2 separate regions of the Homo sapiens genome follow, and region 2 is linked to region 1. The links come from fine-mapping of genetic effects on gene expression. A gene starts in region 1. The other region holds a variant in brackets. All regions are shown on one strand. Distances are from middle to middle.

Region 1 (3,043 bases):
TTTAGTGGAGATGGGGTTTCACCATCTTGGCCAGGCTGGTCTTGAACTCCTGACCTCTTGATCCACCCGCCTTGGCCTCCCAAAGTGCTGGGATTACAGGGACTTTTAAATTTTTAAAAATTCCCCAGATAATCTTCATCATTGTTAAAGTGTAGAAAATACTAAACTGTAGAAATTGACCAAAAATATCTGCTTTATTTAGGAAACTGAAGTGGATCAGAACATTTAGATGATCAATTTTTTTTCTCAATTTTTTTTTGGATATTTTAGCCTTTGGAATAAAATATTCCAAATTTTATTTGGATATTTTTCTCAATTTTTATTTGGATATTTAGCATAAATTTATTTGGATAAAAATTTATCCAAATAAATTTTTATTTGGATATTTTATTTGGATATTTTAGCATTCTCAATTTTTATTTGGATATTTTAGATACGCGGTGAGAAGCTGGTGAGGCAATATTTTCCTGATGAGATGCCAGAACAATCACCATTGCTTTAATAGAATTTGTTCAGTGGCACTGGTTGTGTGGAAAATTGTTTTCTCCTCAGATTTATGGTTTTTTCTCAAAAATATGACAGAATACTGTGCTCTTAAAGGAAAGCTGCTTTTGTTTGATCCATTTGGCCTTAAGGGAGGGAATACATTTAATAAGCACTAATTAGATTAGTTTCAAGTTATTCTTCACTTGGGCTATAAGAATTGTTTAGTTGGCATGAAAGGGGATTAGATAATTTATTAACTGGCATAAATGACAATTATGGCTGAAAATCATAAATTATGGCATATGACTAAATAGAAAGAGAAAAATATGTTGCAAAGAATGATCATGGACATTGCTCATTTAAACATTCTTTAAAAGAATATGTGTACTATGAATTACCAGTTAGGTGTGCAGATTAGTAATAATATAGCTAATTTTCTATTTTTACTTTATTCAGAACTGAAAAACATCTAAAAATAGTGAGTTAAAGAACGTTTTTCTTTAACCAACACTTGAAAATATACTCCAATCGTTTCAGAGATAGTAAGATGTTTTTATGTTTATATAACTTTTTAATTTTGTTACATAAACTGTTGTTAGAAGTTGAAGATGGTTTCCTTAATTTTTATTTTGCAATCTTTATGGATTGAATTAAAAAATAATTTTTGGACATGCTAAATATTCTGAGAGGTGTTTAGAAGTAGATTCTATATCCTTAGAGAGCCTCTAGTTCCCACAGCAGCTTCTCCAGGGAAAAGCCCTTCTTCACTATATTCACCACAAATTAATGGCAGTTATTCATTTTTTAAAGCAGTACCAGAAGCTGATCTTAGCTTAAAGGGGAGGCTTCATCTCACATATGAGCAGCAAATTGATTTTCTCTTCATGGCACTGTATCGATAGGGTTAAGTATTTTGATAGAAGACCATGCTATTTAATATAAGTAGATTTTCAAGAAAATCACTATGCTAAATACTTCACTAGAAGGACTTTATCTATATACAGCAGCAACTGTGACCTGCTTTAGAGATGACATCATTGGGTGTCATGTGGCTCTTTATACGTTTCAGCCTCAGAAAGAGATAATCTGTGAAAGCCACAGAGCCTGATTTCTGCTGTGATAATCTTCAGCAGACCGAGGCTGGGGCGAGAATGAGGCAGACCTGTTTACATGGTGTGTGCAGTGCCTTGTGGAATTCTTAACTCTATTTTATTGTATTATTTTTAATCGAAAAGTAGATCAGATGATAGCATGAAGTGAATCGGCTGCTTTGGACTAATGGGATCTTCTTTTCTGCATTAAGATCAAGAACTTTTCTGGAATCCTCTGTTCTCCGAGTAGCCTTGTCTTCTCTGTGTGTTTTATCAATTTGAAGAACACTGGCAAAAATCAGCAAACTTCATCTCCCAAAAAGCTCTCGCTCTTTTTTGCCAATACTTGAAGATTTCTGCTCCAAAATCTACTTTGAGCTGCTTGAGCATGGTGGTTGATAACCGAAGGGCAAAAGCATCACTTATTTAGTGTGTGTTATAGAAATTTTTTAGACAACCTTACTAGCTAACCCAGGTGACCCTTTACGGATTTCTTTCAAAGCCAATTTGAATAAACAACTCTTCCCTCTCAAATGGGCAAGAGTAACTCTTCAGCACCATGGAGAGGTCCGGGCAGCGTGTTACAACGTGGGACTGTGACCAGGGCAAGCACTCTGACAGTGTAAGTTTTACAAATGTCTACCATCTATTTTAGGTGTATCATATTTTTACAAATGAAGAGAGAAAACTTCAAAGTCGAACTAAGTAACTTTAAATTTAAGCTGATGGCCTTCATTACATTTTTAAATTCAGAATTAAGCATTTAAGGTATATTGGAATGTTCATTTGAAAAAAATACTTTCTCATTGCATAGTTAGTATGTGGATATTTGGTGCTTTGAATTTTGAGAATCTAAGTTTGAGTGTTCTTTTTTGTAGTGCACCAAAACTAATTGCATTGCAGTGGACTTTGGAAATAGCATTTTAATATACACATGTAAATAGTTCCAAATGTACAATCTGTTGCCCTTTGTATGCACAAGACTCTCTTTGGAAAGTAGTTCCTGATTTGTACAGTTTGGGAAGATCAGTGTTAAACTTTTTCAATTTAGATTATACTTTCAGTTACCAAAAGAACAAATGTCTAGGTATTCTAATGTCAATACATGGGAGATATTTGATGACTTAAAAAATCTCAAATTTATTGGTATGAAATGTATAGAGTGGCAGCTTATTATAAGTAGAAATAACAGACAATTTTATAAAATTATATATGGGCTATTGAAATAGTACTTTTAGCATTATTGAAAATAATTAGTTTCAAAATGTTCAATTTAAATCTTCAAACCAGAAATAAAAAAAATGGTTTCTTCAAAAACATCTTTTAACTCCATCTTTTAGACTATCAAATTTGTAGTTCTATGATATTATTATATGACACAACCAACGAAGAAATAATACTTTGAATTACTACCCAGAATGACCCCAACAGATATTTTGATTAGCTATTCAAATTTTTTTCTAAGA
Region 2 (2,500 bases), 560 kb after region 1:
TCACTGTGTTAGTTTTCATTCTCTTCTCACTTTGTTGACTATGTCTCCTTTGCATCCCCTTGCTCTCTAAATGTGGGCTTCCTACCCTTATCTGCAGTCTCATTTTCCTTAGTTTCAGTTACCATCGGTCAACTGTGGTGTGAAAATATTAAGCTATTTTGAGAGAGAGACCACATTCACATGACTGTTACTACAGTATATTGTTATAATTGTTCTATTTTATTACCTGTTATTGTTGTTAATCTCTTACTGTGCCTAAGTTATAAATTAAACTTTATCACAGATATGTACGTATGGGAAAAACATGGTATGTATAAGGTTCAGTACTATCTTCAGTTTCAGGCATCCGCTAGGGGTCTTGGAATGTATACCACATGGATAAGGAGGGACTACTGAGTTAGTTTTCTATTTCTGCTATAACAAAGTCTTCCAAATTTAGTGGCTTAAATCAACACAAATTTATTGGTATTATAATATCAAAAGTTGGAAGTCCTAAATGGGTCTCACTGGACTAAAATCAAGGTGTCCACTGAGCTGCATTCTTTCTGGAGGCTCTAGAGAAATATCAGTTTCCTTGCCTTTTCCATCTTCTAGGGACAGCCCACCTTCCTTGGCTTGTGGCCTCTTCTTCCATCTTCAAAGCCAACAACAACATTGGACCAAGCCTTTCTCATACTGCCGTCTCTGGTTCTTTCTCTTATGCCTCCCCGACTTTTACTTTATAAGACCCTTGTGATTATTACATTGAGCTCATCTGGATAACCAGGCTACTTTCCCCATCTCAAAGACAGCTGCTTATCATAATTTTACCTTGCCGCTTGGGGATTAGGTTGTAGACAGTTGACCCAGGAGACAGGGGACATTATTGTGCCTTCCACAGTGATGTCTTTGTTTCTCTTTAGTTCTGTCTCTACAATCTCTCCCTTAATCTAATTCATTTTTACAGCTTCAACTGTCCTCTCTGTGCAAAAGACCCCTAAATTCTACCTGTCAGCCTGATCTCTCTTAAGCTCCAGCTGCCTCTTACACCTTCAACTGCGAATTTTATGATGAAAATTTAAACCTCCTTACTCTACCCCAACCCTCTCAGAATCAGTTCCTTCTGCTAACTTCCCTGTTTCTTTTCACAGCACCAGTTTTACTCCA[G/A]TAATGGTCTCAAAACCTCACAATTCCTTATCTTGCTCACTCCCCCATGTAGATCACTGCCTAAGTGCCATCAGTTCCTTTTTTGGTGTCTTGGGATGCATCCCTCTGTCTTTGCCCTTCCATTCCCATGATCTCCTCTATCCTCCAAAGGACTCTATTCCTTGGACAGTTGATGTTGTTCTTAATTAGGAGAAGAAAACATCCATTTCTCTTCCTTTCCTGAGTACGTAAGAGCTGTTTTACATTACTCCCATTTCATCATGTTACCATGAGGGTCATATGCATTTATTCAATTGTTTCAAAGTATTTATTGAGAACCAGGTACTATGTCAGACATTGGGGATATAGCACTGAGTAAACCAACCAAGATGTAAGTTCTAAGGAAATTCACATTAATCTAGATCTACAAAATACAGACATTAAATAAGTGAATAACCAAATGAACAAGATTGTTGCAGTCTCCTGGTTCACTCTAGCTGAGCGTTCTCTTCTCTTGAATTTCTAGTGAGCAAACAAAATATTCGGAGGCATTTAACTCATCTTCGTCATATCTAGTCATTTGTGTACTGCCTCATTTCTCTTACCAAACTTCTCGAGGGCAGAAACACTACTTCACATGGCACATGATAGGAGCTTGTTTCAACTACAAAAATCAAGGAAGATGTTGAGGAAAACACTTTGTGTTTCTGCGAAGCATTTTTAAAGGTTTATTGTCTGTAGATGATGCCAGTTTTGTTGGTGGCAACAATACAGGTTGAGCATTCCTCAACCCCAAAATCTAAAATCTGAAATGCTGCAAAGTCCCAAATTTTTTGAGTATTGACATGATGCCACAAGTAGAAAATTCCACACCTGACCTCATGTGACAGGTGGCAGTCAAAATGAAGTCAAAACTTTGTTTCATGTACAAAATTATTATGAAATATTGTATAAAATTACCTTCAGGTGATGTGTATAAAGTGCATATGAAACAAAAATGAATCTCGTGTTTAGACCTGGGTACCATCCCTAAGATATTTCATTATGCATATGCAGATATTCCAAAATCCAGGACAATTCTGGTCCCAAGCATTGTGGATAAGGTTTACTCAACCTGTAGTGACAAGTAATTCTTTGGGTGCGGCATTCAAGGACCTAGTTTCCCTGATATCCACAGTATTAATTTTTCTCGTCATTCCTTTTCTTTCATTGCCCAGTAAAGAAGTACAACTTAAGCTATATGTCTACTTGCTTTCCCCAATTTCCTGAGGAAAAGCTTAAAAGTTATTACTTAAGATGGTGACTTCCCTGCCCATCTTTCCCACCCCCAATACTTCATTTTTTCTAACATTTCAATTTGAACAGAGTAGTAACA

What was found. PIP is the estimated chance that this variant, and not a neighbour inherited with it, causes the effect. A credible set is the group of variants that fine-mapping cannot tell apart.
Region 2: its variant is the best candidate, but not a certain one, in a credible set for the expression of SCHIP1 in lung (TOPMed, PIP 0.81).

Annotation. Positions count from the first base shown.
Region 1 is chr3:159,271,685-159,274,727 of GRCh38, forward strand. SCHIP1 (schwannomin interacting protein 1) reads left to right here and starts at 1,560. Exons shown (of 8, transcript NM_014575.4): 1 at 1,560-2,199. The coding sequence starts at 2,137. The region is part of intron 4 of IQCJ-SCHIP1 (IQCJ-SCHIP1 readthrough); the gene reads left to right. RefSeq lists a silencer at 2,043-2,243.
Region 2 is chr3:159,832,716-159,835,215 of GRCh38, forward strand. The region is part of intron 4 of IQCJ-SCHIP1 (IQCJ-SCHIP1 readthrough); the gene reads left to right. The region is part of intron 2 of SCHIP1 (schwannomin interacting protein 1); the gene reads left to right. Among named protein-coding and RNA genes, the nearest start is that of IQCJ-SCHIP1-AS1, 65 kb to the left of the region's middle. The variant G/A (reference allele first, on the strand shown) is at 1,147.